Linked DNA regions of Homo sapiens. The protein of the gene in region 2 purifies or fractionates together with the protein of the main gene of each other region. This does not show direct contact. Each region holds a gene or a part of one and is shown on either strand. Other genes may lie near its edges. The genes, in order: FAHD2A, SETX, LRRTM3 and RIC3.

Region 1 (8,456 bases), on a different chromosome or scaffold from region 2:
GTGAAAGGGCGGCCAGGGAGGGCAGGTGCCACATGTACCTGAACCCATGCTCCTCCCTGAAGCGCTGTTCATCTGTGCAATGGTAGGTATAAGGGGGCAGGGACCAGGGACCTACCTGCTACACTGTCCTTGGTCACCAAGGCAGGGCCCAGAGGGCAGAAGGTGTCGAAGGTTTTTCCCAGCAGCCATTGTTTCCCATTACGTCTCATTTGCCAGTCACGAGCACTCACGTCATGAGCCACAGTGAAGCCGGCCACGTGGGCCATAGCATCTGTGGCCTATGGGGGCAGGGGATTTGGCCATACAGGAGGTTAGATCATGGGTGACACCAACACCTATGGCAAGGGATCTCTAAGCTGTTATCCCATGTTAGTAGCCAGAGCCAGCCAAAGGTGGGTGAAGGGAAAGGCAGTGTCAGGGAGCAAGGAGGCTGACTGCTTCCTAGTGTCAGGGACAGCTGGCACCGTGTGTTGGTGAGTGGGGTCAGAACTAGGAGAGGCAGGAGCTGGGGCCTCTGCTGCACTCTGGACTGGGAGCCCACCCTTTCCACCTCACCTTGATGTGCTTGCCTTTCTTTCCAATGACCACGGCCAGCTCCACTTCCCAATCTACCTCCTGTAGGGTGGGAGAGGAACAGTGAGCTGCAGTGGCTTCAGGGCCCACTGTCCATGCTGAGAGGCTGCACACCATGCTGAAGGGCCTCAACCTTTGTCAGTATGGCTTCGCTGCCATCCCATGTTTGCCATCACCACGAACCAGAGCCCAGTGAATGACAAGGGAGGTGTGACTTGTAGACCCATACATTTTGGGCAGTGGCAGACAGCATCATGGGATGCAGGCACAGGTCCCCACACCACTGACTGCAGAAGAGCAACACGTGTCCAGGGCACTGAGTTTAAAAGTCACTCTGGATACTTTTAACAAAGGATAAATACGAAGTAATATCCCCTAGCAATATGTAACCCTACTGTGTGTCAGGCACTGTTCTAAGTGTTTTAATCTATTAACTCCCACAAAGGACTTGAGTAAGCAATTCACAAAAAGGTAACGGACATGGCCACAAAACATGAAGAAATGCTCAGCCTCTCCCATAATCCATAAAATACACTATAAAATAGATATAATTTGGCCTTTAAAATTGGTGGCTCTTTCTAATAATAACCAGAGTTGGTGTAAGTACACCCGACATCCAGATGTTGGTCTCTAATACCACTCCCCACTAAGGAGCACTGGGTTCCTTGGGGAAACGGCCAATTCCAGTTCCAAGACAGACAGTACATGATAAGCCTAGAACATCTTGGCCAGAAAGCTAGGATATACTAAAAGTGACGGGAATGGAGCCAACTTGAAGGCCCCTCACTGGCCAAACTGAGGTCACCTAAAGAATGTAAATGATGAATTACAAACAATTGAGTAAAAACAGAATTCACAGTGATATTGAAGACAGGAATAAAAAGGAGGGAGGCAGCTTTTCTTCATAGAAGAATGCCAGCCAATAAAAACAGAAGGCATGATTGAGAAGTCATTGATCTTGTCTGGGAGTGGTGGGTCACGTCTGTAATCCCAGCACTGTGGGAGGCCAAGTCAGGTGGATCACCTCAGGTGAGGAGTTCAAGACCAGCCTAGCCAACATGATGAAACCCCGTCTCTACTAAACATACAAAAATTAGCCAGGTGTGGTGGTACACGCCTATAATCCCAGCTACTCAGGAGGCTGAGGCAGGAGAATCACTTGAACCCAGGAGGCAGAGGTGTGCTGAAATTATGCCACTGCACTCCATCTGCACAATAGAGTGAGACTCTGTCTCAAAAAAAAAAAAGGTCATTGTTCTCTAACCCCCAGTGCAATAATAGATTCAGTCAGGATGACCACAGGATCCCTGGATGAGATGCTATGGGGCAATAAGATAGTTATGTGATCTCAAACTACCACCCATGGATTGCTTATTACAAAAATAGAAATGCATCTTCACAATGGAGGGACCTAGTGAATGTCAGCTAAACCAAGTGGTCAAATTCTGGGACCACTGACATGAGCCTCCCAGTGGGATACGATGGAAAATGTATAACATCTGCTTTGTAGATCTCTTGATAAAAATGCTTACCCTGACACTAATCATGAAGAAACAACCAGACAAACCCAGAATGTGAAACATGCTATGAGACAACTGGATTCTTCAAGGAAAGGGCAGGGGGTATTGTTTGAGAGCAGGAGTTGGCAAACTATGGCCAGCTCAACATCTGCTATAATCAACTTTGATTGGAAACCCATCATTCATTTCTGTATCGTGGTTTTCACACTATAACAGCAGAGTTGAATTGTTGCAAAACAGAACATATGACACGCAAAGCCTAATATTTACTAATTGGCCCTTGATATGGTTTAGCTCTGTGTCCCCACCCAAATCTCAACTTGTAGCTCCCATAATTCTAACGTGCTATGGGACGGACCCGGTGGGAGATGACTGAATCATGGGGGCAGGTCTTTCCCGTGCTGTTCTCATGATAGTGAATGGGTCTCATGAGATCTGATAGTTTTAAAAATGGGAGTTTCTCTGCACAAGCTCTTTTCTGCCTGCTGCTATCCACCTAAGATGTGACTTGCTCCTCCTTGCCTTCTGCCATGATTGTGAGGCTTCCCTAGCCACGTGGAACTGTAAGTCCAATTAAACCTCTTTTTTTTGTAAATTGCTCAGTCTCGGATATGTCTTTATCAGCAGCATGAAAACAGACTAATACAGCCCTTTAAGAAAAAGTCTATGGAACCCTGTCCTAGATTGAAACCACTAAAGAGATATAACTGAATACAGTGTGTGGCCTTGGTTGATCATGGAGCAACAAACGAAGTAACCAAATTAGAAGTTATCTTTGGGGAAGTCAGCAGTACTTCCGATTGGGAATTGGGGCAATTGGATTTCATATTAAATATTATTCAAGTTAATTTTTTTGGTTGTGATAATGGTGGGATGGTCATGCAAGCCATTGTCCTTATTCTTAGAAGATGCCTATTTACGTTTTTATGACTAAATTGTCTTAATATTTCCAATGTGTTTTAAAAGGTCCCCTCCACCCCATACCCTGCAAAAAAAAAAAAAAAAAAAAAAAATGTGTGTTTGCCATGTGGAGGGCAGGGAGAAGACAAGGGAGAAAAAGGATATATGGCCAAATGTTTACAATGAAACCAGGTGGAAAAGTTATCTGAGTGTTCACTGTATTATTTTCCCAGCTTTTCTATAATTTTCAAGACATTTCTAAAATAAAAATCTGAGAGAAAAAGTAACCAGTGTTAGAAAGGGTATATACACTACTGGTGGATGTGTAAGTTGCTTTTACAATTTTTTAAAAGGCCAATTGGCAGAATTTTTCAAAAATTTTGAAATACTGCCTATACGCTGACATATTTAAATTCCAAAGGGTTTATTCAAAGGAAATAATAATGTATTAATGGACATGCAAAGCCTTTTCCACATAAGGATGTTTACTGCAACATTTATTTATAGAAGCCAAAAACTAGAAACAGTATCCAGCAGTAAGGTACTCAGGAATAAACTAATCTACATAACAAACTCCGTGGTGTCAGGGCGAATACTTAATGGCATGAAAAAATGCTCCTGATGGAGTCTTAAGTAAAAGGTAAGTATATGTACAGTATAAACATATACAGGAGCGGAGAAACACTGGGAAGGTAGACAGAAAAACATTAATATTCCGAGCCATGGGCAGTGGGATTATGGGTGACATAATTTTTTAATGTTTATCTCTATTTTATTATCTACAGTGAAGGTGCATTGCTTTTGTAACCAGGAAAACACGTACATTAACTTTTTTTTTCCAAGGCCAGTGTTACTACTGTGTGTACAATCCTGTAGAGTTTCTGCTGAATGCGCTATTGAGCGAGAGGTGGCTCCAGTAGGCTCAATACTGAGCTCAGAATGCCCTTGTGATGGGCCCAGTGACTAGGGAGGGCAGTGGGGAGACACTGACCTGGCTCTGTGGTGGGAGGACCACCTCATCATAGGGCCCCACGATGGAGCTGGCAAACTTGCTGAAGATGATGGGCTCCTTGGGCACGGGCACGTTCTGTTCTTTGCAGTGGTCCACATAATTCATGCCCACACACACCACCTTATCTGGTCGTGTGACTGGAGCCAGGAAGGTTACCTCCGACCGTGGTAGGACTGGCAACTGGGCAGCCAGGGCTCTGTAGAGACCAGAGCAGGTGAGAGGGTCTGGCTGGGAACAGGTGGGCAATCCCGGGCAGGCTGGGCAGATCCTGCAGCAGCTACAGGTTTTGCTTTTTGAAATCTATTTCCTAGCTCTATCAACCATCAGAGTCAGTGTGAAAATCACTGACTATTGTCCTTTGCTATCAGAGCAGGGCTTTTATTTATCCAGTGTTGATTTCCTCTCCCCCTTAGGTAACTCATGTCCATGTAAAAGATACAAACTGGAATACATGGAAAGGTTTCCCTTTCCCCTTCCGGTTACCCCGTTCCCCTGGCTCTTCGCAGCTACTCTATGGATATTCTTCTCCCACCCTTTTGTATGCAAATGATAGCATACTATTTACATCTTTTAAAAAAACAACTGATTTTGGAGATCTCTGCTTAACAATATGTAACAATACATAGAGAGTGTCCTCTTTATTTCTTGTGGCTGCATATTACTGCTCTATAGAGATATACCCAAGTCCCTAATGAGGGGCATGGAGATTTCCAGTCTTTGCAGAATATGGCAATATGGGAACATACTGTTAATACTGTGAGCTGTGAAACATTTGTATTTTTTTCCATTTTAATAGATGAAAATGACATCTTAAAGTATTTTTAATTTATTGTTCATCAGCTCCTTAGACCAGATTCTATAGGGGTCCAGGCTTCAGGGACACTCTCACCTAATCTAGTCCAAACCCAGGAACCAAGTGTCTTATAGAAAACCTCCTTGCAGTCCTCTCTCCTTGTAGGAGCTGGGAGTCTATATCACTCCCCCAGCTGCATAAGATGCCTTTTAGGACCCCCGGGCCCAGACCCGTCAGTCAGTCCAGGACTTCATTCCCAGAGGAGGCAGTGTGATGAAGTATAGAGTCCTGGTTCCAGCACCACATGTATGGCCTTCAAATTGTTAATCACCTCCCCTAGCTCTCAGTTTTCTCCTCTGAAAACTGAAGATGTTATTATGTAAGATTTCTAAGGATCTTTTAAGAGAACGGGAGAAAAGGAAAGGTGGGGTTACTCTGCTCCCTTGCAAAAGAGCTACCTGCTGGTGCTGTTTCCCAGAGCGGGGAGGGTGCAGGGGGACCAGGGCAGCTGCTTCAGGGCGATGCTGCCCACTTACTTACCTTCTTGCCACTGAGAGGGTGGCCTCTCCCTGCTCTAGGAACTGCGTCATCGTCTTCGGGAGTGTGGGGTCAAAGGCATTGAGGTTGATAACCCCTCCACCATTCCCTGTCTCCAGGCCCAAGTGAGGCCCCACCAGGTGGGGTGCCCGGAACTGCACTAGTCTCATGTCTCTGGAGGGTTGAAAGGGCCACTTCTGAGCCTGCAGCAGAACTGTGAGTAACCTTCTTCTACCAGACACCAGCATCAGAGCCTGCAGAGAAAAATGCAGGATCCAGGAGACAGAGGATCCCAGAGCCATCATCAGGTTCCCTGAAATTCCTAGGGCTATAGCCCGAGGCCCTTTGCCCCATCAACCGTTCCCTGCATACCACACGGGAAGTGGTCCAGGCTTGTATTTTACCTGCTATACTTCATAAGGTGAAACTTTTCTAGAGGAGCAACTACTACATGCTACGCAGTAAGTCCCAGGGATTCCAGCGTTCCTTCAACCAGTGCTTTCTGAAAGTTCCCACTGTGCTTGGCTCTGCTGTAGGTATTGGGGAAACAATGTAGGTGAAACTCAGCCCTGCCATTCTCCCTGCACAGGTCACAGATGTTAACAACTGACGTAAGATTCAGCTATCAGGACTAATGCTGTGAAGATGGTCAGGGGCTCTACCCTTCTCTAGTTTCTGGAGGAAGTGATGTGAGCTGAGCTGGGCTAAATGAGCAGGACCAGGAATTAGCTGGGTGGCAGCCCAGCATGGGCAAGTGACGCTGGTGAAACTGGCTTCACAGTGGCCATAAACAATTTTTTAAATGCTATTTTGGTCCTGTTAACCTCCTACTTAAAATGGTTTCCACTGCTCACATGATCAAGCTAGAACCTCTACCAGGCTGTCCCAGTCTTCTAGGAGCAGCGCCCCCACCTGCCTCTCCAGATAATAATTATTTCGTTTCTCCTGATAGAGAACAAGTTGCCTGAGGGAAGAGGCTGCAGACAAACAACAGGGTCTGGGCCTGACAGCCATCACTTGTCATCTCCCTGGGTCCAGGGCACATGTCTGTCTCTTTCACTGCCCAGCACTGTGCCTGGTGCACAGAAGGCTCTCAGTGACTTTCTGCTGAATGAACAAATAAGTGACAGAAGCAGGGGCTTGACATTTCACTACTTGGGAAAGCTTAGTGCTTGTTAACTTCAGGAGACATGGCTGTGCCTTCCCACAAGGGCCAGTTGTAGTGGCTCATGCGTGATATCCCTAACAATTTGGGAGGCCGAGGTGGGTGGATCACTTGAGGTCAGGAGTTCAAGACCAGCCTGGCCAACGTGGTGAAACCCCGTTTCCACTAAAAATACAAAAAACTCGCCGAGTGTGGTGGCAGCCACCTGTAATCCCAGCTACTAGGGAGGCTGAGACACGAGAATCGCTTGAACCCAGGGGAAGGAGGTTGCAGTGAGCTGAGATCGCGCCACTGCACTCCAGCCTGGGTGACAGACGAAGACTCCATCTCAATTAAAAAAAAAAAAATCCTCAGGGCTCAGATCCTGTTTTGAGTCCAAGGCTCCACTTAAAGACAAACACTATTCTCTTGTTTTGTTCTTAATCCACGTCTGGCCTCTATTCCTTACCACATGGTGCCTTCCCTGAATGGTTCCTTGCTCTTACAACAAAGGCGGTATTGTACAGCCTTCTATGCCCAAAAATGTGGAGGCAGCTGATCCCCAGACTCTTGGTCCTCACCTGGAGATTCAATCTGCCTTGTTCAGTTGAAGATTCATTAGACTTAGGTCACCACTGTTGTGGCCCACCAGTTTGACTAGAAAACCGAGGGCTTTGACTTCTCTGCCCTGCTGTCTTACACAAGCACCAACTGTGCCACTGTCAAAAGGCTGTTCGAGCCAATGTGCACACACTCAGACACTCCACATGCTAACATAACAGTAACTGCTGCCGCTGAATGCCAACTATTAAGTGCTCTACCTACAATGTCTGATTTAATTCTCGACAATTGTGGAAGGTAGGTACTGTTAGCCTCATTTTACAGATGAAACAATTAAGGCTTAAAGAGGTTAAGAGATTTGCCCAAGGTTACACAGTCCTAGAGCTAGGAGAGGAAGGAGCTGGGATGTGAATCCAAGTCCAGGTGACATGAAGTCCTTGGTTCAGAAGCTTGTAATGCAAGCAAAAAAATCCAGCTTCAGCCCCCATCCCCCTACCAAGGCCATTTTAACCCAGAATGTTGTGGTGAGAAGTGGGGACCTTCCATAGGAAATCCTCCAAAGTCTCTAAAGATTGTAGTGAGAAGTAGGGACCTCCCACAGGAGATCCTCCAGAGGCCGTAACTGCTAACAGACATGCGTGGGGAAACTACAGGCGCCCTCTGGCTGTTGCCTCAGGGACGAGGCTGGTTACCAGCTCTCCAAGAGAACCCCAGGCCCCACTGACTGTTCCCTTCCCACATGACACACACATGCAGGTTCATTCCAACCTTACAGCAATCTCCTCAGGTAGAGCGCCCTCACTTTAAAGAAGAGGACACTGAGACTCAAAGGGATGATGTCAGGTGCCCAAGGTACTAGTCAGAAAGTGGCCCTGGGGCTTCTGCAACAACCACTATATCACACAGCCCGAGCTCAATCCAACTCTGCAAGAGTCCATAAGCAAAGGGGCGGCGACATGAGGTGGAAACAGTAGCCTCCATCAAACAAAGCCTGAGACATGGGTGTGCACGTCGGATTCCATCCCACCGTCCACTCGCCTGGAACCCGTGCCGGTCCCCCAGTTTCCCCATATGCCCAGCTCCAGCCCCGACAGTTAGTGAGTGCTCACACAGGTCCGCCCCGTCTGTGTGGTCAGAAGCGGCTGGGGATCCGGTACTAGTTCTGCGCTCCGCGGGAGACCGGCGCCACGGACACCCTTCTGGCCTAGACCCAGCCAGGCTCGTCCTACCTGGCCGCGGCGGCCGATCTTCCTGCGCTGTAGGGTTAGAGCTCGCGGGGCCGAAGGTCAAGGGCGGCGGGCGCCTGAGCACTGCCACCAGTGACCGCAGCCAGCCGGGGAAATGCAGCAGCTGCTAACCCAGGGCCACTCGGCCGGATCACCCGAGAGAAAAGCGGGCGCGATCCTGTGACGTCAC
Region 2 (8,456 bases):
AGGTTGAGGAGGGAAAATGGTGTGAACCCGGGAGGCAGAGCTTGCAGTGAGCCAAGATCGCACCACTGCACTCCAGCCTGAGCAACAGAGCGAGACTCCAACTCAAAAAAAAAAAAAAAAAAAAAAAAACTAAACAAGGCACCTTAATACCACCAATAATTATTGGCCTGTATAAACCAGAAATGCTTAAATAAGACGGTTGAAATCGTATGGTTAAAAAGAAAGGTGTAACTTCAAAGTAGATTGAACACACACCATTTCCTTCCCTCCTGAAACCCCACTAAAACACCAAAGAGATTTTAAAAAACAGCATTGACCAATTAGAACAAAAAGGACAGAAGAGGAGACAACAGTAACCACACTTTGGAAGCTGCAAAGCAGAGGGATGAATGGAACTAACTCAGCAAGCCCAAGAACGTGAACTCCAACTGGGAAGCAACAGCTCTCTCTAGAAGGATGGCTGGAGGGCAACTGTTCCTCCCTGGTCCCAGCAAAAAATGACAAGAGATTTTGTCTCTAGAGAGGATAAGCAGTCTCTGACCTTGAGGACAGCAAGGATGAGGATGAGATAGTAGTAAATGTTTACACACTGAATGCTCCAACACCTCTCCTCCGTCCCCCACTCCTACCCAGCCCTCTTCCCACACTCAGCTCCCTGCCACGCCTACATTTCCCAGGTAAAATATGTGACGATTCTTTTTTGGGAACTGAGACCTGACAGGAAAAATAAAGACTAAAGACATTGGGAGGCCGGGCGCGGTGGCTCACGCCTGTAATCCCAGCACTTTGGGAGGCCAAGGCGGGTGGATCACCTGAGGTCAGGAGTTTGAGACCAGCCTGACCAATATGGCAAAACCCCACCTCTACTAAAAACACAAAACTTAGGGCTGGGCGCGGTAGCTCACACCTGTAATCCCAGCACTTTGGAAGGCCGAGGTGGGTGGATCAAGATGTCAGGAGATCGAGACCATCCTGGCCAACATGGTGAAACCCCGTCTCTACTAAAAAATACAAAAAATTAGCCAGGCATGGTGGCAGGCACCTATAGTCCCAGCTACTTGGGAGGCTGAGGCAGGAGAATGGCATGAACCCAGGAGGCGGAGCTTGCAGTGAGCTGAGATCATGCCACTGCACTCCAGCCTGGGCAACAGAGCGATACTGTCTCAAAAAAAAAAAAAAAAAAACTACAAAAAAAAAAACCCACAAAAATTAGCCGGGTGTGGTGGTGTGCACCTGTAGTCCCAGCTACTCAGGAGGCTGAGACAGGAGAAATGCTTGAACCCAAGAGGCAGAGGTTGCGGTGAGCCGAGATCGTGCCACTGCACTCCAGCCTGGGCAACAGAGTGAGACTCCGTCTGAAGAAAAAAGAAAAAGAAAAAGAAAAAAAGACATTGATTGACATAATGGTGGGGTGGGGCTTCCTAATGAAGTGCCAATGGTCAACAAGCCCACCCTTTCACTCAGAGCTTCTGGTGTTTTCATCTTTTATATATATAACAAAATACAGATTATAACTGCACCTAAGCACAAAACCTTACCATGAAGAATGAAACTAATGCTGGGTTTTACCCTGCTATGGCGCCCTTCAGATCACGTTTGCCTTCCAGAGTGCAACCATAAAGAGGCTCGTTTTTGTAAAAGTATCTGAAGATTTCATGTTTTCCTAGGCATCTTTTTTAACCTATTGCTAATCAAATTTATTCTCTTTTTAAAGTAATATTTTTTAAATGGAGACGGTATTTCATACAACATAAAACTCACCATTTTAAAGTGTACGTCTCAGTGGTTTTTAGTACTATGGTTTTATTTACTATGCTGTGCAACCATCACCACTACCTAATTCCGCACCATTTCCATCACCCCAAAAGAAACACTGTACCTATCAGCAATCCCAATTCCCCCCTCCTTCCTTCCCCTGACTACTACTCATCTTTCTGTCTCTACAGATTTGCCTATTCTGGACAATACATATGAACGGAATCATATAATATGTGACCTTCTGTCCCTGACTTATTTCACTTAGCACAATGTTTTCAAGGTTCATTAGTGAACACAGATCTTCACTTCTTTTTATGGCTGAATAATATTCCATTCATTGTATGAACAGACCTGTTTATCCATTCATCAACTGACACACATTTGGGTTGTTTCCACTTTTTGGCTACCATGAATAATGTTCCAATCTACTCTTTAGTTTCCTGTTCTTAAATGTGAGTAGACCACCAGAAATCATTACCACCTGAAAAAAGGAATTAACAGAAAGGACTATAAACACTAAAATGAACAGGAAAAACCAACTGGGGAAACACGAACCATGCAAAAAGAGAAAAACTTTTAGCTAACTTTAAAATTATCATAAACTTTAGCTAATAAAAAATACCACATCCATGAAATAGAATAAAGGACTATTCAGAGAACAAGAGTTCCAGGAAACTAAAAATACGCTAAAAAGGATTCAACGGACTTAGGAGAAAAGTTGAGGTGGCCTCCAAGAAAGGATAACAAAAAGAAAATGAGATGAAAGATAGAAAAAATTAAAGAAAATGAGAAGATTAAAGAAATTCTAAGACATGCAAGATTTCAAAAATGTACCTCTCATATATCCTCTTCTCTGGAAGCCTGAAGGACAGGCCTCGCTAACATGAGTAACCAAGAAAGATGACGGGGGTGGAGGAGATACAGACCCAACCCAAGGATAAGGACTACTATTTCAGGAATATCATCATGCACCACACACAGAACAAATTTATAGATTAACTAACGTACCTGATCATGAGCGATTTAAACATTCAAGAAAAGACATCCTGGCATTAATTTAGTGATAAGTAGAAAATTAAATAAACATATAAAACAATAAATCCAAGGAAAACACAGAGTTTGGAAGGAAATGGAAAGGCAATTACAGCATACTACATGGCTTAGCTGAAGATATCTTTCACATAGTCAAAATAACAAAAATGGATCTAAAAATTTCAAGACAATCCCATAATGAGGGTGAGGGAACAGGAAGAGTGTGTGCAAGGGTTGGGCTGGAAATGGGGGTAGTTCCTGAAGCAGGAAACAGAAACGCCTAAAACTGAAAAATCAAGGAGTTACAATATGGACATGTTATTCAGAAATATGGAAGGAAGGCCAGGCGGGATGGCTCACGCCTGTAATCGTAGCACTTTGAGAGGCAAAGGCAGGTGGATCACTTGAGCCCAGTAGTTTGAGACCAGCCTAGGCAACATGGGAAAAACTCTGCCTCTACTAAAAATACAAAAATTAGCTGGACATTATGGTGTGAGCCTGTAGTCCCAGTTATTCAAGAGGCTGTGGTGGAAGGACTACCAGAGGCCAAGAGGTTGAGGCTGCAGTGAGCCATAATTGTGCCACTGTACTCCAGCCTGGGGGACAGGAGTGAGACCCTGTCTCCAAAAAAGAAAAAAAAAAGATAAAAATGGAAAGAAATTTCCAAAGGACTCATTAAGAATAGAAAATAGTTACTTGAGGGGATGAGGGGTGCCTGATGTTCTTTATAATGGGCCAGATAGAAATCTTTGACTATTTTAAACTCTGTATATGTACAAATGGAACTTGTGCTCATTCTGTTTTTAAAAAGCTGAGACTACAAAAATGTCCTGAAGGAAATAAATCTTAATAAATATCTTTTAACTCAGGAAATGAAAGTAAGTGTCTACCCTTCATAGGGTTATGAATGGCTTCTAAGCAATTTAGTGCTTTCCAGCGAAAATAAAGCAACTCCTGCTAAAACAAAAGTACCTTAGGAAAAAAAAATAATAAAGCAACTCTCAAAAATGGCTAAAATTTGAGGTACGAATTGATCAAAAGATTTAACATAAAGTACATTGATGAAGATACGTTCACTCAAGCTTTATAAAAGCCATTTATCTTGCCATGTACAGTGTTAACAACTCACTTCTCTTCTTTTGTAGTAGACTTGTCCCTTTGTACATTACACTTCCTTCCCCAACACTCCAATCTTGTTACCAGACTGTCTTTGCACTCCACTCTGCCTGTAACATACTTCCCACAGTTAACTCCTAGTCACTTGGGTCTCAGTGTAAATATCATCTGCTCATAGAGGTTATCTGATCTCTCCAGAAAGTGCCCTGTCCCCTTTGTTCTAGATCATACTAGAGTCCTTATCTCAATCCCAAATGGTCACTTCCAGAGAGCAGAGACCTCACACCTGTCTTGTTCACCACTTTATCTCCCATGCTTGTAAGAGCACTTGGCACATACTAGGCACTCAAATATCTATCAAGCTAATGAACCATGACTATTTACCTCAACATTGTTGGTTTTAAGAGTATTACTGTATACACGAAAGTTTCTTTTGAGGATTAACTAAAAATTTGCTCCCACTTCTTACCTGCCTTGAAAACACACACACAAAAATCCTTCTAAACGCAGTTGAATGCTTACACTAAAGAATTATTTGATGTTTTTCTCAAATTTTAACGGGAATCTTATCGTTTGTCAACTCTACTTGAGTAAGGAGGAGAGAAGAACCAGAATAGGATGTGCTGGGGTTGGGGAGGCTGTTACACAGAGCAGCTGCTGTGATGAGTAAGAAACTGGCGGCCAGACGCAGTGGCTCACGCCTGTAATCCCAGCACTTTGGGAGGCCAAGGCGGGCAGATCACAAGGTCAGGAGATTGAGACCATCCTGGCTAACATGGTGAAACCCCATCTCTACTAAAAATACAAAAAATTAGCCGGCCGTGGTGGCGAGAGCCTATAGTCTCAGCTACTCGGGAGGCTGAGGCAGGAGAACAGCCTGAACCCGGGAGGCAGAGCTTGCAGTGAGCCGAGATTGCACCACTGCACTCCAGCCTGGGCGACAGAGCGAGACTCGTCTCAAAAAAAAGAAAAAAGAAAAAAGAAAGAAAGAAACTGGGAAGTCTGACGTGTAGGGAAATTTAGGATTCATTACTTTGTGTTCAATGTAATTCACCCTTTGCCACCTCCTCAAGAAAACTACAGCAGAGGTCTCTTACTTAAAAACAAAACAAATGCACATGGGAAACTATCTCCTCTGAGAAGTCTTCCTTTACCCGTGCGTCAATAAACATTTCCTTCTGTGTTACCTCTGCACTTGGTATATTAGCACCCTGAGTTGTGTCTATCAGCTCCAAGGAGCAGAGTTTCCAGCCAGGCACAGTGGCTCATGCCCGTAATCCCAGCACTTTGGGAGGCCGAGGCTGGTGGATCACCTGAGGTCAGAATCAGAAGTTCAAGACCAGCCTGACCAACATGGTGAAACCCCTTCTCTACTAAAAATACAAAATTAGTGAGGCCTGGTGGCGCAGGCCTGTAATCTCAGCTACTTGGGAGGCTGAGGCAGGAGAATCACTTGAACCTGGGAGGCAGAAGGTTGCAGTGAGCAAAGATCGCACCATTGCACTCCAGCCTGGGCAGCAAGAGCAAAACTCCACCTAAAAAAAAAAAAAAAAAAAAGTGTTTCCTCTGTATTGCCAGTATCTAAAACAGTGGCTGGCACAAATGTCTGTTCAACATGAAATCTAAAACCAGTATCTAAATCGAAACGGTCAATTTTAATTTAACTATACTTTTTTTTGTTTTTTCTTTTGAGACAGAGTCTCACTCTGCCGCCCAGGTTGGAGTGCAGTGGCGCGACCTCGGCTCACTGCAACCTCCGCCTCCTGGGTTTAAGCAATTCTCTGCCTCAGCCTCCCGAGTAGCTGGGATTACAGGTGCCCGCAACCACGCCTGGCTGATTTTTTGAACTATACTCTCATTTTCACTCAGCAAGGTAAAGAGGTAACTTGAAAAGTTTGGAGAGGCATACAAATGAAACACATACTTACTGTTTCAAAAGTATTCAATACCATCAAAGGGAAAAAAACATTAAAATAATCTCCATAATTGTGAAATCTGACAGGCACAGGTCTTGAGATGGACTGACAAAGACTTGCAGGGGGCCCACACTGACCAAAGTTCAAAAACATTTCATATTTCCATTTTAAGACCTCTTTAACGAAGGTGTCAGAGACAGACTGTGATGACAAAAGAATGTTTACTGGAGAGGAAGATGGAAAATATTTGCTTTCACCAAATGGAACTTTGCAACCTTGCCTGTTGGAATTATTCGGAGACTGAGGATGAAGAACATTGCACGAATTCTTCATTTCACCAACTGGCTTCTGAGCTATGAGGGGAACTGGCTGTGGTACTTTCAAAATCGACTGTATCCCCTTTGACTTATTTTTTAGAGACGGTGAAAGTGCTGAAGAAGTTTCCAAAGATTTAGAAAGACCAGCAATTCGTGAAGTACTCTTTGAGCTAAAAATCTTAGTGGTAGGTCTCAAAGGTTTAGATGCAGGAGGAGGCAAGCCAGGTTTACGAAATACATCTTCATCTGCTGCTTTCACTTCAGAGTGTTTTGGGCAGTATTCACCCTGGTTTTTTGTGGTTTCAAGACAATCTTTGTACTTACACTTTGTGCCACTCAAAGATTCCAACTGAGGCCGACTTACAGAATCTTCTTCAACCTCAACTGTATCTTTTCCATGAATTAGTTCAATGAGTTTATAATTGTCATTCTCCATTTGTGAACATAAATCCATATCTTCAGGATCATTTTGGGTTAAAAATAAGTTATCTTCCTCTGCATCACTGCTGGAGTCAGGCTCTCCTTCTTTCAAAGCTGCCATCTCTATATGACGTGCTGTTGGATCACCTCCACCCAGAGGGTCTTCTGAAGTGGAGACAATTACTTCATTTGTTGGTACTGTTCCATTTAACACTACAGAATCACACTGGTTCAAAGGGCAAGCATCATCAGTTGCTGGAGACCCATGTTTTGCTTTTATGGTTTCTGGTTCAGAAGGCATGCATTTTATTAACTGTTTTCTGTTACTGTTGGCAAGTACCTCAGTTCCTCCTGTACAATTATAATCTGACCTATCAGATTCTGGTACAAATATGTCAGAATTCTGTGCTGTATGTGACCCTGCTCTTTTAACATCTGTACTTTCACAATCAGAAAGTCTTCGTCTATTTTTTTGTGATTTGGGTCTGATCTGCCTTTGCATCTGAAGTTCTTGACTAGTCAGAAGTTTCTTATTATTTCTGACAGACAGGTTCTGAGGAGAAATTAATTTAGTCTTTTTTCGGGTATCAACTACTCCAACAGTTTTGCCATGATCACGTAATTGAGCTACATAATCCAAAGACCGCTGGGACAACTCATATGCCTTACGAGGACCCTTTTTCAGGCCAAGTTTCTCAGCTGTTGAAGTTGGCTCAGGACACTGACGAAATTTCTTTGGCGGCACTATAGCAGGAGTTGTTCTACAACTTAGGTAATTTGAACTTCTATTCTGTCCTTTTTTGGCATCTGAATGAGTTTTCTTAGGGGTCTTAGAAACTGGAACTTTCCTGATGGGTTCTGTACAAGTACAAAGCTTTGAAGACTTCTTTTGTGAAACCGTAGTGGCTCTCTGAATACGTGAATTGGGAGTTGAAGTCCTTCTATCAATACTTTTAAAATCATTTCCCACAAGATCTCTCTTATTAGTATCAGACTGGCCCTCATTTCTGACAGAAGATGAAGGCCTCACAGGATCTTCAGCCATTGGTTTTTCAGATCGTTTTCTCTTAGGCTTTTTTACTTCAATTTCACAAAATTCTTCAACAGAAATACTCCGTGGTCTTGTGTGTTCTTCAATGCCCTCTGCTCCTTTTTTAACAACTTCAGATACATAATCTGTACAACCCTGACCATTTGTAGTATTGGCTATAGGAGCCAAACATTTTTTCTCACCATCTTGAACTGAATTATTATCGTCTGGATGATCTTGCCAAACTGAAAACACTTCAGATGAACTTTCAAACTCAAAACACTGAGAATCAGATTCCTCAAACTGAAAAAGAGTCTCTGTCTTTTCTTCCTTTACTGGATTCTTTTCCTCCTTACTATTAACTGTTGAAACGTGCTGCTCTGGATGTTCCCTCTCAAGGCATATTTTGTCCTGTTTAGTGAGTTTCTCAAGACTCAGGATTCTTTCATCATCATCATCATCAGAATCTGAAATAATAATAACCTGTCCACGGGAGGTATCTCCAACATTATTTTGGTTAGCTGTGAAACATCTTTTATCTTCTTTTACTTTCCTTTGCAGCTGCGATGAGTTCTGAGGTGAATCGGATGGGAACGTAATAACACTGGCTTGAGCTAGTAAAGATAATTTGTGAAGGTCTCTGTCTATCTGAGAATCCGTTAAGGTGTCAGATTTAGGACTGATGTCAGGGGCCTGTTCTCTTGTCAAGTTAGAATAAATCACACTGGTACTATTACTCATCTCCTCATCTCTTGATTCAGGTACAGTCATAAGATCTTTAAAGGGAGATGATTTCTTCTCTGAAGCATTGGTCATTTCTGTAAAAGGGATCAATTCTTTACCATCAACATGAAATTCCTGTATTTT
Region 3 (7,464 bases), on a different chromosome or scaffold from region 2:
ACCCTAAATAAATTAAATATAAGTTGCCTCCTATCTCACAATAAAACTATAATGCAAGTCATGAGAGACCTTCAAAAAAGACTCATCACCACTTTGATGTGCGTGTGTGTGTTTGCTTGGTTTTAAATTTTTAAACATTTCTTTCCCATTAATGTTGATGATAAAATGAAGCCCAATTGTTGATTGTCCAGGTACCCTACCTTTGGGGTAAATCAGAATTTTGAAAGCATTGCTCCTGGGTCCTTTGTACTTGGCGCCTCCCTATTTAGAGACAGTTGGGGAAAATTGGGAAGGTCATGGGAGGAGTTGGAAGCTCTTTCTTATTGCAAGACCAATTCATCTGCACCTTGAGACTTTTTGATGAATTAGGAGATTGTTATATTACCCAGCATTATAAACTGTTAAGAGCTGTGCCAATATAAGATGTTATTATATCTATTCTGGAAAATTTTCACCTTTTCTCCTGAGGCCAAATACCTGCCAGTCCCATAACTTCTTCTTTCGCATGCTCTGACATACCCAGAACATCTGCATTTCTTTTATACAGTTGAATAACAACAATTCACATCAGGTATTGGTTTTCATGAATTCAATTTCTTATTTTGAGTGTTTAGTTTGAGAGATGATATCTGTCTTCTAGTCAGGAACAATCAAAAACAAATATATTTTTACTCTCATATACAATAGTTTTATTTTAGAAAATTTTTTTTTCAAAAAGATTTTACTATTTCTAAGCAGTCAATGGAGTCAGAGAGATCTGAGTTCAAAATAGGATTATGTGATTAGTCTTGAGTGTTAAATTTGGGAATGTTTTCTTTCCTTGTAAAAATGTAATTTGTATTAATCTGTATAGTTTTGTGGTTTTCCAAAACATTCAGGAGGGACTAGAAATAGAGACTTGACAAAAATGAGTTGATCAGTAAAATATATTATTTGCAAGTTAGCATATGTTTTAGGTTCTATACATCAATTTGGATAAATTATATTTTATTTTTCTTATAAGAAAATGGAGAAAATTGTTCTCTATTATTACAAGTAAAAAAAATTTCATGGTTTAAGAAGAAATCTTGCCAAAAGAAAAAAAGAAAAAGAATTTTATGTAAGTCTTCCCAATTAGCTCCGAATTGAACATGTGTTCAGTTGACAAAGTGTTGAACATGTGTTCAACCCTGTACTATGGATCTCTTTTATAATTATGCAGTCTCAATTTAGAAGGTCTTTGGTTTTTTCCTTGGGGTTTCTTTCCTTGTGCTTCCTTGATTTTATGTCTGTACCTCGGGGCCTACATGCATCCACATCTTGGGAGCATCTGTTCTGCACATTCACAAACGAACTTGTATGTTAAGAAATATGTGACTTGTTAAACTTTTTGAACAGAGTTTTAATGTGAGAGCCCAGAGTAGAACACAGAAATAATTCAGTTAGCTAATATTTTACAGATGGAGAATTGAATTAAAATAGGGATTACTAAACAACATGTCAAATATATATAGATATATATTCTTTCATTCTATCCATTATCTCTGGAAGTTCTCTTGCTCTGATCAGAGAAAGAAATCTTTTAGTACAGTGGAAAGACTAACAGCCTGTAAATTTTGAGAATAATTCAACTGCACCAATTATTGGCCCTGTGTTTTGGGGTAAGAGCTCAATTTCTTTGAGATTAATGTGTCTTCATAGGGTTGTTATGAAGACAAAATGAGATAATTTATGTAAAATGTGGTTTGTGAACTTCAAAACACTGCATAACTTTATGGTTTGCTGCAGCTGCTGGCTGTTATTGTAACCATGCTGGGTGAAACTTTCCATTTTTCAGCTCCAAACATAAGTAAACATTTCAGTTGTTTAAATCGGTGAGGAATAGACAGGAAGGGAGACATAGGAATGGGGGTTAGAAGGAGGAAATGGGAGATTATCAAATGCTGGAAAAGATAGGTTAGAAATGCAAGTTTTAGACAAAAACTGAAATAAATTGGAAATATGTGATAAAGATTCCAGACACAGTCTTTCAGATTGTCACCACCCTCACCCTTAACCTGGACATGGCAAAATAAAAATTAAGCAAAAATAATAATAATCATCATCCAGCATTTTTTTTCTTGCTAAAGACCCTTTTGGTTGAATTTAAAGATGAGAAGTCTCAAAATTCCTGGCGTATTTGGTGTAGCTTAGGGCCTTGGTTGCACAGAGCTGTGGTTCCAAGGTGATTGCTTCTATTTATAGTCGTTCACTTTAGATGAATTTAAAATATTTAAGAAAGAAAGTGGTTTCCTTCAGGAAATCAAGGGCATACACTTGTAAGACTCCTTGGAACCTTAACATTTCTAAAAATCATTATCAATTTGAATGTGTCTAGAAATAGGTTTATTAGTAGATAAACCTATTTATTAACAAATATGTTAATTTGTGCTTGTTTACACAAATTAATTCTTCTTTTTCTATCTTTGCAAGGATAACTTCTAATGAGAAAACTTGCAAATGACATTTTGGTTTACATAATAAATAAAATTTTGCATTTGATTTTAGACTCACGAATCATAGCTTTATAACCCTTTATAAATTTGCTAACGACGTAAAGCCAAATTTCAATGTAGAGAATTAAGAATAAGAATAATACATTGCAAGGAAATTAGAAAATGGAAAACATAAAGATTAAAATTAGATTTAAAATGACAAAAATTTTTGAAGAGCAAATAATTTATGCAAAATATGTTACAAAATCTGGGATGCTAAATAGTTGACACAAGTACTGTGTTTGACATTTAGTTTCATTTGAATTAGTAATAGAATTTGCTTCTTCCAACATTTACATCTTTTTTCTTTCTGACTTTATATATTTTCAACAAAAATTTGCTCCACAGTTTTTAAGTTCATTCTTCTTGAATCCGCTTTTACATTTGCTGTGACAAACCTGCATAAAACTAGATTTTATAGATATAACTTCTTTGGAAGAGATAAAAATTTAAAAGTTTGACATTGTTTTCAGTTATTCTTTTCTTCATTGTTTTGATTGGCCCCTGTTAGATTGATGTATTGTCAATCTACTTTTGATGGCATGAATATAAAATGACAACATAAAAAGCACTTCTAGTGCAACAGTAATTGAAACTTGCAGTTTTCCATTAAAAAAAAACACAAGAATGCATGATTACTATTGATAAAGTAACAATATTTTCAAACAATAACCTATGTCAAGCAAACAGCACAAACAAGTTGATTATTTCAGCTTCTAAAGACTCAGGTTTTCTTAATTTGATTTGAATGAACTTTATAATACAATTGTATAATCAATATATGATCTGGGCTGGTGTCAAATTACTCTGAGTTATTTCTTTGATAATTTGGAGGTGAATCCCATTATGGATAGCAATATAAACAATTTAGAACATATTAAGGATGTTTACCGTCTACTTGAGTGATAAAGTTCTCCACCATGGCTCATATCTATATTGAATGAGCTGTACATGTTTAAAATTCTTCCTCAGGAGAGAAATGATGTAGTGCACAACGCAAAACAAATTCATATGTTTCCTTTGAAATGTTTCCAAAATACCGGTCTCACAGTTCTAAATAAAAAGTTGTCTTAAGAACCAGGCACATTTTGCACTGACTGATGGTTACTTTTAGGTAAACCGCTATGGGTTAATTAGGATAAAAATTGCTACTGTACAATTATTATGCACTATACTCCCACCTTGGCCTGAAAATAATGAGATGTAACAAAAGTTTTTATTTGTCACTGGCAGCTGCACCTTTTAACTGTATCACAAAGTCTGTTGCTGTGGTTACAGCCTTTGTTTCCAGTGATGTTTTGTCCATGCTTTCCCCCAACCCTTAACAATGGTTACTCAAAAGAATGAAATAATGAGTCATTCATTCGGAAATATGTTAAAATATCCCTCTTTATCATTACATTTCACTGCTTAGAAACTAGGCTGTAATTCAAGGCAACAGTTAAGTCTGAGAACTGTTAAAAAAATCTTTGATTTTTTTTTCATTTTTAAGAAAAACCTGCCTATGTAATTGAAGAACCTCTTACAAGTCTGAACAATTAAATCCTTTTTGGTTAATGTATTATTTCTGGAACAAGTAGATAAAATTCTACGCAGTAAGCATAATAAAAATCGTGCATGTTTCGCACAGCACAGAATTTTAGAGTCAAGGTTTCTGGGCACAAAAGCAGTAACAAAACAGTCCTTACAAAACTGAGTAACTCTGAATAACACAAGAAATAATTTTTGTTAATTTAAAATTTTAGAAACTGAAATGTGTAAAGTTTTTAAAGTAAAATGTAATTAAATTATGGTACTGTACATACCAGTTGTTTCTACAATTGAAACTTTACAATATGAAAAATACATTAGCTTTGTACAGTTTTTACAGGTAGGTAGGATGAGTTTTGAAAAAAAAAGATTCTTTTATTTTTCAGGGTCATACTCTGTTTAAGTCAAAAAATACTGCACAACTTAGCTAATTACAAAGTGTAGACTTAAAACAATTCATGTCTTCTTTATTTCATGAATCAATCTTGGATTTTTTGTTTATTTGAACAGGGGATTTTGTGTTTTGTTTTGTTTTTAGAGTCCACAATGAACACATCTTCCTCATTTTGTCCTTGAGGTTACAAAGTTTGGTAGCAACCCCTGGCTACCAATGATCTCAGTTAAGCTAGCTGCTGTTTATGGTCACTGATTCGGCCAGCTGTTGTGATTGTGCTCAGGTCCAGCTCAGTCTCTAGGTGTGTTTCCATCGTATCTTCCTGTGCATTCGTTTCAAAGGACTTATGGGAGAGAAGTTCATGATGCACCCCACAGTAACTTATTGTGGGCTGGTCGTATGCCAGAAAGGTTGACACATTCATTGATAAAGGTATCTGGGGAAAAATGACATGAGAAAAGTCAGTTATAAAAATATGGACAACTTTAGGGGAAAGATTTAGAGACTGAAGTGCTGACCTGACTAACCTCCATGGTTATATCTGTGGCCCTGTGGCCCAGGTGTCCCTATATTATCCCGCTAATGCCCCCTATTCCTATATGGTGAGATCAGTGCAACAGTTTTAAATCCTGGGATGAAACTGCTTAATTCTTTACTAGAAGATTTGGATAAGTAGTAGCCTACATGGTTCTGAAAATGATAAAAGATTTATTGGAACAGTCAGAAAATTGCTTTCGCTAACTGGGAAAATAATTGTGTTTTTAGAACTGATAAACACTATTATTATTATTATTAGTGTTAATTATCCTATTATTTGGTTAGGATACAATAGAACAAGAGTGATTCTCAAACTTTAGCATTCACAAAAATCACCACCCACTTCTTTAACTAGTCAACCCCCTGCCACCCAAGTTTTTCATCCAGTAGGTCTGGTATAGGTCCTGGAATCCACATGTCTTACAAGTTCCTATATGATGCTGGACTATTAATCCACACACCACACTTCGATAACCATTGCAGAAGAGAATTATCTAGACAAGCCATTCTGGCTATTCTTACCCATGACTTCTTAATATTTATTTTATCATGAAGATTCCTTAAAATATTAATGTCTGTAGTTTGGTCCATATATCTAAAATTTAGATGAGCATAGAGAATTCCCAGGAAAAATCTATGGTTCCTATGAAAGTCCAAAAAGCATCAAAGGATGATGCTAGTTTGAAGGAACCAGTAGTATACATGAGGAAGGGACTCCCTTGCCAACTAAAGAAAGCAAGTTCTAAAAGTGAGGGAAAAAGCAAGCATGACCATGGTGAGAAGGGAAACACAGTTACAGACAAAGGGGAGCCTGAAATATAATCAGATATCAAAGTCTAGAGATAGTTCCCATTTCTTTTTCAATAAGATAAAAACTTGTCCTAAAAAGTAGGCAGATTTCAGGAACCTTCAGTCCTGATCTTGGTTTAATATCCTAATTACTAATTCATGCTGTTGAATTCTCTGGAGGATAAAAGCTTCTGCCATTCTTGTTTGGTGAACAGATAGAATGTATATTTGTTTGAGCACATCAGACTAACTTCCTTTCTGATCTTAGCTGAGATTAGAGTCCAAAGCTAAGAAAAATAGAAGGCCTAGGTATTATTTTTTTATTAACTGCATCTTTACATTCTTTCCCCTTCTCTCCATGCATTAGAACCGTCTTTGCCACTTCTGTTTCCATCCCTACAGTTCTACTTACATGTATTTCTACTTCAGTGAAAATTCCTGGAGCAAATATTACCTTTTATCTCTTTAATAAAAGTAATCAAAAAAATAAAAAATAAAACTAATCACTTCTTTTAAGATTATTTGCTTATAATATGAATATTTCGGCATATAAAATATATATAGCTTAGTTCTTAGAGAAATGTAATCCAGCTTATTAAATGAAAATTCCAGAGTAACTCTTCCTATTTATGTGGATTTTTAAGATTTAAAACATGAAGTTATCTGATGCGTGAATGAAAGATATCACATACTTTAAAAAATGGTCAAGGCGACTGAAAGATCGTAAAGAAAATGCTTAAGAATAAAATAGGATACTTCCATTTAAAATAAATAAGAATCTTGTTGTCACAGATGAAATAGCCCAGATAACTAAAATACATTTTTATGTAAAAGTAAATGTGCAGCATGAATAGATTTGAGTTATAGAAGAGAACAAAAATAGAACTGTTACTGGGTACACGAGTTTTACATTATCCTCTGGGAAATCAGTGCTCTGTAATGTGTTATGGGTCATATATCTGTAGGATTTTATATACTTGTCCTTATTCGTCATGGAAACTTATGCCTCATATATGCAGAATCATTTCTGGCTTACTTAGAATTAACTCTACTGTGAATAATTTGTAATTTCTATGGTGATGATTTATGAAAAATAATAAACCATGATACATTTATTCTGTGTGTGTGTGTGCACACACAATTTCCTGCTTGATTTAATGTATCAAGGCTACTGACTGGTATGCAGAGTGCAAGTCCTAATTTGAACCATTATCAATTAAATAGTTAGCTCTGATGATCTGTTTTAAAAATCCCACATATTATTTTCTTTAGTGAGTTTCTTACTGTTGGATATGTCTTATTTTGAAATACTTTATGCCATGATTATACTGTTTAAATATAAATCCACATTTTTTCACATTTTATTATTTCTGAAATTAGGATGGAACTTATAAGCAACGTGAATGTTTAACATATATCATTTCCATGTAATTGAGAGTGCATTTTAAAGTTGATTCTATCTTATTAACAATAAAATAACATAGTAAGATGTATCAGTAAGTAGAATGTAACAGCTAGCCATATCTGAATACAGCATCACAGTAGATTTTTCCCAGGTTGACCTAAATGATTTTGAAAATTTAAGAGAGTTAGCATTGGATATATACCCATGTGTATATATAGGGGTACACACATACAGATACATATATAATATATAAACATATATGTATATACACATATATGTATAAACTTAAAGCCAAT
Region 4 (8,456 bases), on a different chromosome or scaffold from region 2:
GTGGTTGCCTTCACGTTCTTGATGGTGCCCTTTGAATAAGAAAAGTTTTACATTTTCTCTGACAAAGTCCAATTTATCTACTTTTTTCTTTTGTTTCTCCTGCTTTTGGTGTCATATCTGAGACAAATTGCCAAATCCAAGGTCATGAAGATTTATGCCTATGTTTTCAAGTTTTATAGTTTTTGCTCCTGCAGTTAAGTCTTTGATCCCTTTGAATTAATTTGTGTATATGGGTAAGGTAGGAGTCCAACTTCATGTGGATATATAGTTGCCCCAGCACCATTTGTTGAAAAGACTCTTCTTTTCTCATTAAATTGTTCTGGCACCCATGTCAAATCAGTTGACTCTAAATGTAAGAGTTTGTTTCTGGACTCTCAATTATATTACATTAATCTGTATACTTATCCTTAGCCAGTACCATGCTGTCTTAATTATTGTAGTTTTCTAAGTTATGAAATCGTGAAATGTGTCCTCAAACTTTGTTCTTCTTTTTCAAGATTGTTTTGCTATTTTGGGTCCTGTGACCTAGCATTTCCATAGGAATTTTGGATCATCACTTTGGTTTCTGCCAAAAAAAAAAAAAAAAATGCCAGTTGGGATTTTGATAGAGTGAACTGAAGCAATTTGGAGAGTACTGCCATCTTACCAATATTAAATCTTTCAATCTATGAACAGAGGATTTCTTTTTTATTTATCTAGGTCTTTAATTTATTTTAAAGGAGATTGTAGTTTTTAGTGTGAAAGTCTTATTTTGTTAAATATATTCATAAGTATTTTATTCTTTTTGATGTTGTTATAAATTTTGTTTTCAGATTGTTCCTTAGTGTATAGACAATTAGTTTTTGTATATTGATACTGTATCTTGTCACCTCGCTGAACTTGTCTGCATATAGAGATAGTTTTACTTTTTTTTTTAATCTGAATGCCTTTTATTTTTATTTTTACTTTTTTTGGCCTAACTGCCCTAGCTGGAACCTTTAGTGCAATGTTGAATAGAAGTGGTAAGAACAAACATCCTTTCTTGTCCTTGATCTTAAGAAGTATGCTTTACTAGCATATGTAATGTTATCTGGGGGCATTTCGTAGATGCCTGTTTTCAGGTTGAGGAAGTTCCCTTGTATTCTTAGTTTGCTGAGTGTTTTTCATTATGAAGGGGTATTGAATTTTATCAAATACTTTTTTTCTATGTCTGTTGAGATGATTATGAGATGATTATGTGAGTTTTGTCCTTTACTGATGTGGCATATTACATTAATTGAAATTTAGATGTTAACCCAGCTTTACCTTCCTTGGCTAAATTGAGGAGGCAGTTCTTAAAGTGTTTTGGGGGGTGTGTGTGTGTGTGTATGTGTGTGTGTGTGTGTGTGTGTGTGTGTGTGTTTAAATAATCCAGATGAAAAAGAAGGGCATTCTAGGTAGAAGAAATACTGAGCAAAGAAACACAGAGGCTTAGGGCCAGGCACGGTGGCTCATGTCTATAATCCCAGCACTTGGGGAGCCCAAGGCAGGCAGATTGCTTGAGGCCAGGAGTTCGAGACCAGCCTGGCCAACACGGAGAAACCCCGTCTCTACTAAAAATATAAAAATTAGCCCAGTCTGATGGTGCACGCCTGTAATTCCAGCTACTTGGGAGGCTGAAGCAGGAGAATTGCTTGAACCTGGGAGTTGGAGGTTGCAGTGAGCTGAGATCCCACCACTGCATTCCAGCCTGGGCGACAGAGTGAGACTCTGTCTCAAAAAAAGAAAAAAAAAAAAAAAAAAAAAAAAAAGAAGAAGCATGGAGCCTTGAAGTATCCTCAGAGTTGTGAGAGAAGACACCAGAGAAGTTGGCACGGGCCAAATTGTGAAGGTTTTTTTCTGTCATTCTTAAGGAGATTGGGTTTTATTCTAAAGGCAGATGAGGCATCATTGAGTGTGTAAGGAGAAGAGAAACATTTAACCTGGTTTTAGAAAGGACACCCTGGCAGCAGTGTAGACACTGCGTTGTGAGGATTTCTTCAGGGAGAAGATTGTTGTAGTCATCCAGTTGAGACATCATGAGCATCACCAAGTCATTGTCATTGGGTTCACCAGTTAGGGTGCTTGTGACAAGTGACAGAAAAGTCAGCTTGACTAAGACAGGGAATTTATTGACTTGTGTAAATGAAAAGACCCTGTGTTAGAAATGTCTTGCAGTATGGTTTGAACCAGAGACTCACAGTTGTCACACTGGGGCTCTAGCTCTTATTTTCTGTGTCCTTTTCACTCTGGGTTCGTTCTCAAGTTGGTTCTGTGCTCTGGCTGCCCTCTCAGGGTGGTAGCAATGGTTGCAACAGTTTCGGACATTACCTCCTCACATTCCATTGCCCGGAGAAAGTGAGTGTCTCATTTATAGCAACAGTTTCGGACATTACCTCCTCACATTCCATTGCCCGGAGAAAGTGAGTGTCTCATTTATAGCAACAGTTTCGGACATTACCTCCTCACATTCCATTGCCCGGAGAAAGTGAGTGTCTCATTTATAGCAACAGTTTCGGACATTACCTCCTCACATTCCATTGCCCGGAGAAAGTGGGAGTGTCTCATTTATATACGTGTGTGTGTAGAGCTGGCCTGGAACTCCTGGCCTCAAGTCATTGTCCCACCTCAGCCTCCTAACGTGCTGGGATTACAGCACTTTGCTGGGCACAGCTCCAGGCCTCTTTTCTTTTAAGTCCTCCATCACTCTCACCTTCCAGCCTCACTCCCAAGATTCTTTCCCAGAAGTTCCAGCAAACATATCCGTTCACGTTAATGGCTTGAATTAAGTTAACTTGTGGTGCTGTGGGTAGAAAGAATATACTGATGAATCCACTCTGGAGTTGAGAGGAGTTCCCAAAGGAAAATATGGATATTAGAGCAAGAGAGGTTATCAATGGATAGATTGGAGGGAAGAGAATAATTTTAAGAGACATTTTAAAATAGAATGGGAAAGTGAGGGAGAGGGAGACATCTGGATTATTCTCAGGTTTAGGTGAAGGGATAGATGTTGATTTCCTTTGCCAAAATAGGAATGGAGGAAAAGTAGATTAAAGGTGTGTGAAAAGAAAATAAAAACTTGGGACCCCAGTTCACTATGCCAAAAGGAAAAAATTAAGCTGAAAGCTGAGTCGTGCAAGAAACTGCCTTTCCTTTTGTTCCTAAGCAGGTAGCTACAGATAAAAAATTAAATATCTCTACAGGTAGCTACTCTATGTTCACCGTATCTTACGTGAAGTGCCGATTTACTGAGCACCAGATGAATACATAATTGACTATTCCTCTACCTGCTCCTTTTCTCTTGCAACATATAGATTACCATACCCTTCTTTCCCCTCCAGCTCACTTTTCCCCTTGAAATATTGAAGCCCTCAAAATCATCTTTGGAGAAAGGCACAGACCTCTCTCCTGGGCGTGTCCTTAACGTTGGCAAAATAAACTTCTAAATTGATTGAGGCCTGTCCCAGATACTTTTTGGTTTACAGGTGTAAGATGATTAATCCAGGAATTGGAAAAGTAGTATTATGTCCCTTTCTTCAGTCTTCTTTCCTGTGTTAACATCCCTAGCTCCCTCATCCGTTCCTGGTATGACCTAGGTGCAAGTGTTTGAACACAGCCCTCTCAGAAGAGGCTCTTAGAACTGCAAATAACAGCATATCTAAGACAGTTCATGAAAGAGCAATCTGTTGTTTCCCTGCACTCTTCTTCTTCTATACTTAATGCTTTCTGGGGATTGCTCTAGTTTTTAGCATTTTCCTTGCTGACTTTGCTGTATATTAGAATTCTGAGCCTTTTTTTCTTCTTTTTAATAGGAGCTGCTCATCTAGGTTTTGTTCATTTTCTACTGTTCACTTGATGTTTCGGAATGAAATGTAGGAATTTGTAGTTTTCCTTGTTGCATTTTATTTGTTTAAATTTGGCCAAGAATTCTAGCTCTTGAAATTTTTTCAGAGCATTCAATGTTTCATTCAATGTATCTGCTTACCATTTCTTAGCTGTGTGCCATTCTTGATTTTTAAAAAACTTTTTGTTAAAGACATTTTCAAACATAAGCAAAAGTTGAGAGAGTAGTAAAATGAATCCATATCATCCTGCTTCAGCAGCCATCAATACATGGTCAGTCTTGTGTCATGGGTATCCCCACCCACTTTTCCCCCCATTCACTGGATTATTTTGAAGCAAATCCTAGACATTGGATCATTTTTCATCCTTAAATGCTTCAGTATGCATCTCTAAAAACAGATTCTTATTAAAATGTAGCCACAATACCATTGTCACACCTAAAAAGTCAATACTTCCTTGATGTCATTAAATATCTAGTTGGTGTTCAAATTTTTCCCACCATGTTATAATTTTTCTTTTTTTCTTTCTTTTTTTACAATTTTACCTTTGATTATGATCAGCATGTTTTCTCTTTTTGTTTGTTTTTTCTCAGGCTGGAGTGTAGTGGCAGGATCTGAGTTCACTGCAACCTCTGCCTCCCAAGTTCAAGCAATTGTCCTGCCTCATCCTCCTGAGAAGCTGGGATTACAGGCATCCACCACCACGCCTGGCTAATTTTTTTTGTATTTTTAGTAGAGACGGAGTTTCACCATGTTGGCCAGGCTGGTATCGAACCCTTGACCTCAGATGATCTGCCTGCCTTGGCCTCCCAGAGTGCTGGAGTTACAGACATGAGCCACCATGCCCAGCCTCAGCATGTTTTCTTGATAGGTCAAATTATTTTTTTAAATGTCTTAGTCATTTAAAACTGCTTTTAGAGTCCCACCACTGTATTCATGGAAACGTTTTGTTTAGGGTCATTCAACCAGTTGGTTATTTGGTTGCTCTATTCCATCTTACTCTGTCACCCTGGTTTGCCTCCTTCCTCCTTCCCCACTTCAGTCTATTCTCAATATAGCTGCCAGATAGTATTATGTTGAAGCTTAAGTCAACTCACATCTCTCCCCTCCTCAAAACTCTACAGTGGCTTCCTGGCTTAGATGAAAAGATAGTCTATACATGACCCAAAAGGCCCTATGTAATTCTCTTCCCCATTTGCTTCTACTTTTCTATCTGTCTCACTTTGTTGTGGCCACACTGGCTTCCTCCTCACTGTTCCTTGAATATGCCAAGCATGTTCCCACTTCAGTGCCTTTGCATTTGCTGTTTCCCTTGTTTGAAATGCTCTTCTTTTGGATATCCATGTGCCTTTCCCTTCGTCTTCATGTTTTCTCTCAAACTGCATTTCCTGATGCCTTCTCTGGCCATTCCAGCTAAAATCTTAACTTCCAACACGGTCCTACCCCTTCTCCCTGTCTTATTTTTTCTCCTTAGTATTTATCATTATCTTGTTTATTGTCTCTTTTCCTACTTAGAAAGGAGGCTCTGTGGCCGAGCGCGGTGGCTCACGCCTGTAATCCCAGCACTTTGGGAGGCCAAGGCGGGTGGATCACAAGGTCAGGATTTCAAGACCAGCCTGGCCAACATGGTGAAACGCCGTCTCTACTAAAAATACAAAAATTCTCTGGGCATGGTGGCAGATGCCTGTAATCCCAGCTATTCGGGAGGCTGAGGCAGAGAATTGCTTGAACCCAGGAGGCGGAGGTTGCAGTGAGCTGAGATCGTGCCACTGAAATGCAGCCTGGGTGACAGAGACTCCATCTCAAAATAAAACAAAAAACAAACAAAAAACTTCTTAACTCTGGCTTCCTAGAGTTTGTGCTACACGATTCCTACTTTGTTGTCAGAAACACTAAGATCTCATTCTCCTGAGGTTCTCCTTTCATTTCATCAGAGCTTCTTCTTTGATCAGAGTAGCAGTTCTTCTGCTCTCCCTGTGTACCTGTGGAACATAAAAATGTCAGCACACTTGGTCAAGAACTTGTCAGTTGTTCCATTGTCAGCTGAATGAGAGTTTGAATAGGTTGCAGGGTAGTTGAAGTACTCCAAGATGACAGTGTGCCACTCTGTGTTGGAGGTGGCTTCAAGAGAGTCCTATCTACTACTTCTACTTGGCTGGGAACCTTTGGTGTTCCCACAGTAACACTGTATCTGGGCATCTTTCCTGCTGACCCTGCCTGAATGCTTATAAATAGGGTTCCTTAGTAGCCCCTCTCCAGTGGCCCTGTTCCTGTGGAATAGCACAGACCCTTTGTCACGATGTTCTCCCTAAGTAAGTTGTGTCCCACTGAGTCTTAATCTCTCTGAGATGTGAAAATATACAGATACATGTATATGTGTATATAAATATACACATACAAACATATACACATATACATGTATGACATACATATACATACATAGTTCTGTGTTATCTTAAACTAGCTTCTTATGTGTTGGTATGTAAGTGCCTGAAGACAAATATATTATTTTGGTTGGTTACCATTTATTTTCCCTAATGAAGCATCAGAGATCTACTCTGAAGGAATGTTTGAAGGACAGAGATTAGGAAATCATTTTGATTTCAGAGGGTCATTTTCCTGTTCATGTATTATGGAAATGAACAGAAAACAACAGACAATTTGAGAGCCCATGAATGCGTGTAAATTAGGCATTTTTTCAAGTTTAGAAACGTACAGGTAAGTGGGTATGGAATACCTTGCTTGATCAGTCATCCTAATTGCCAGTTTCTATTCTAGAAACTATAAAATTGAAAACTGGCAGGATAATGAAGTAAAAAACTATTTTTAGCCCTACAAATGACTGGGCAGGATCTTGAGATTCTAATAAAGGCTAACACTCCCAGTATAATTCATCCAAATCAGGTCAGCAAAGATTGTAGTAGGCAAGATCCAGAGCCTGCCCTGGGAACCCAAACAAATAAAACACTAGGCCTTTATTCAAGAAGTTCTTAGTTTGTCTTCCAGCCGGAGACCACTAGGAACACACCTGTAGTTGAACAAGTTGAGTGTATTACTCATTGCAGCAAGGGAGAATGCACACCATGGGGAATTGTGGGGCATCTCAATAAGGCACTGTTAGAAAAAGTCATTATAGGATTTGGGTTTGTGTTAGGTGATCTGGAGGATGGTTTAAGGATGTGGTACTTTACTCTGAATTAGATGCTTTCAGGAAGTAAGGCAAATTCTAGGACTGGTATCTTAACAGTTTATCTAAAGGGAGGGCCAACTAGAGAAAGGCTAAAGCTGTAATTGATAAAGCAGCCCCATCGTTCACATTACTCAGCACTGGGGGATATTAGGTATTTAGTGGCTTGGACAGTGTTCATGTTTTGTCTGTGTTCAGACAGATTACTGAGTGGTCTTGTTTTTTGTCTTGATCCGTCATGATCACAGAATGGCCTTGTCTAATGTTGGTGTTCTGAAATAGCTTATGTGTAACAGGAGAACACCACAACTTATCTGTGAGTACCAAGCCAGCTCATAGCAGTATTAATGCCTAGTTGATAATACCAGGCCAACTTTTAGATGTTAGAGGCTGCTTTTCTAGTTCTCAGATATGATATACACCAAATAAAATTGGATAGAGATGGTGTTTAGTGGAAAATGTTACCTGTTTTTGTTTCCCGGTTCATTTAAGTACAGGCTATAAGACACATTAATAAAACTCTTGATTAAGGCCAAGTGTGGTAAGTGCAATTAAAGAGGCTCAAGCAGTGTGTTTTACAGGCATGGGGAATAGCATGAGAAAATGCTTCGGGGGCATGGGGGCAGTATCTGGCCTGGGCCTTGGAGGATTGGCTGGATTTAGATATGTGGAGTTGGAGAGGAAAGCAAAGCCACTGGAGGATAAGCATAGGCTCAGAAGCAAGAAGGTGAAAGTCAGGTTCAAAGCATGGTGAGAACCCTAGTTTGACTAAATGAGTGGTATGTAATGGGAAAGTAGTGTGAAGAGCACTTTTGGGTTAGATTATGGAATTCAGTTGTTTAGGAATTCAGTTTGTGGGGAGGGAAAATCAGAATTTGTTAAATACCTACTATATGTGCTAGGTGCTTTGTATATATGATATTATTTAATCTGTAATTCTTGTAAACTCTGGAAAGTAGATATCATGCCCATTTTACAGATGATGAAAATGAGCCCTAGAAAGATTAATTTAACCTCCACTGAAATAGTGGGAGGCACAGCCATAATCTTAACCAGTAACTGACTGAAAAGGTGGCACTCATTCCACTTCACTCTGCTACCTCCATTCTGCTGTAATACAGCCTCTTGTCATCAGTGGAAACTATTAGAAGCTTTTGATCAGAGAACTGGCAAGACCAGTTAGAATTGTGCTTTAGGAAGATTATTCTGGTAACAAAACAGTGGTAATTGATGTGTATTGAGTGTGTGGATCGGGCCCTGTGCTAAGCAACTTAGACACACAATGATCTCTTTTAGTAATATATAGGATGGATTGAGAATGGAGAGGTTGATAAAAGATGAAAGAAATCTGATTAAATTAGCAGAAAATGTGAAAGCAGTAGAGAACAAAGCAGAATCAGGTAGAAGGGAAATGTAACAAGATAGGGCCC

Evidence for each region.
Region 1: the proteins of SETX (region 2) and FAHD2A purify together in Homo sapiens (affinity purification with mass spectrometry; one large-scale study listed by BioGRID and IntAct). This does not show direct contact.
Region 3: the proteins of SETX (region 2) and LRRTM3 purify together in Homo sapiens (co-immunoprecipitation; one large-scale study listed by IntAct). This does not show direct contact.
Region 4: the proteins of SETX (region 2) and RIC3 purify together in Homo sapiens (co-immunoprecipitation; one large-scale study listed by IntAct). This does not show direct contact.

The regions. Positions count from the first base shown.
Region 1 is NC_000002.12:95,402,686-95,411,141, reverse strand, and holds the start of FAHD2A (oxaloacetate tautomerase FAHD2A, mitochondrial), read right to left. Parts: upstream 8,435-8,456; 5' UTR 8,270-8,434; exon of another isoform or gene 8,150-8,269; intron 8,143-8,149; exon of another isoform or gene 5,740-8,142; intron 5,590-5,739; 5' UTR 5,584-5,589; coding exon 5,339-5,583; intron 4,202-5,338; coding exon 3,985-4,201; intron 616-3,984; coding exon 556-615; intron 279-555; coding exon 116-278; intron 1-115. UniProt on the Homo sapiens protein: Tautomerase that converts enol-oxaloacetate, a strong inhibitor of succinate dehydrogenase, to the physiological keto form of oxaloacetate. It is thereby required to maximize aerobic respiration efficiency by preventing succinate dehydrogenase inhibition.
Region 2 is NC_000009.12:132,320,490-132,328,945, forward strand, and holds part of SETX (probable helicase senataxin), read right to left. Parts: coding exon 5,835-8,456; intron 1-5,834. UniProt on the Homo sapiens protein: Probable RNA/DNA helicase involved in diverse aspects of RNA metabolism and genomic integrity.
Region 3 is NC_000010.11:67,094,996-67,102,459, reverse strand, and holds the end of LRRTM3 (leucine-rich repeat transmembrane neuronal protein 3 precursor), read right to left. Parts: intron 4,874-7,464; coding exon 4,664-4,873; 3' UTR 909-4,663; downstream 1-908. UniProt on the Homo sapiens protein: Exhibits a limited synaptogenic activity in vitro, restricted to excitatory presynaptic differentiation. May play a role in the development and maintenance of the vertebrate nervous system.
Region 4 is NC_000011.10:8,155,943-8,164,398, reverse strand, and holds part of RIC3 (protein RIC-3 isoform a precursor), read left to right. Parts: intron 1-8,456. UniProt on the Homo sapiens protein: Molecular chaperone which facilitates proper subunit assembly and surface trafficking of alpha-7 (CHRNA7) and alpha-8 (CHRNA8) nicotinic acetylcholine receptors.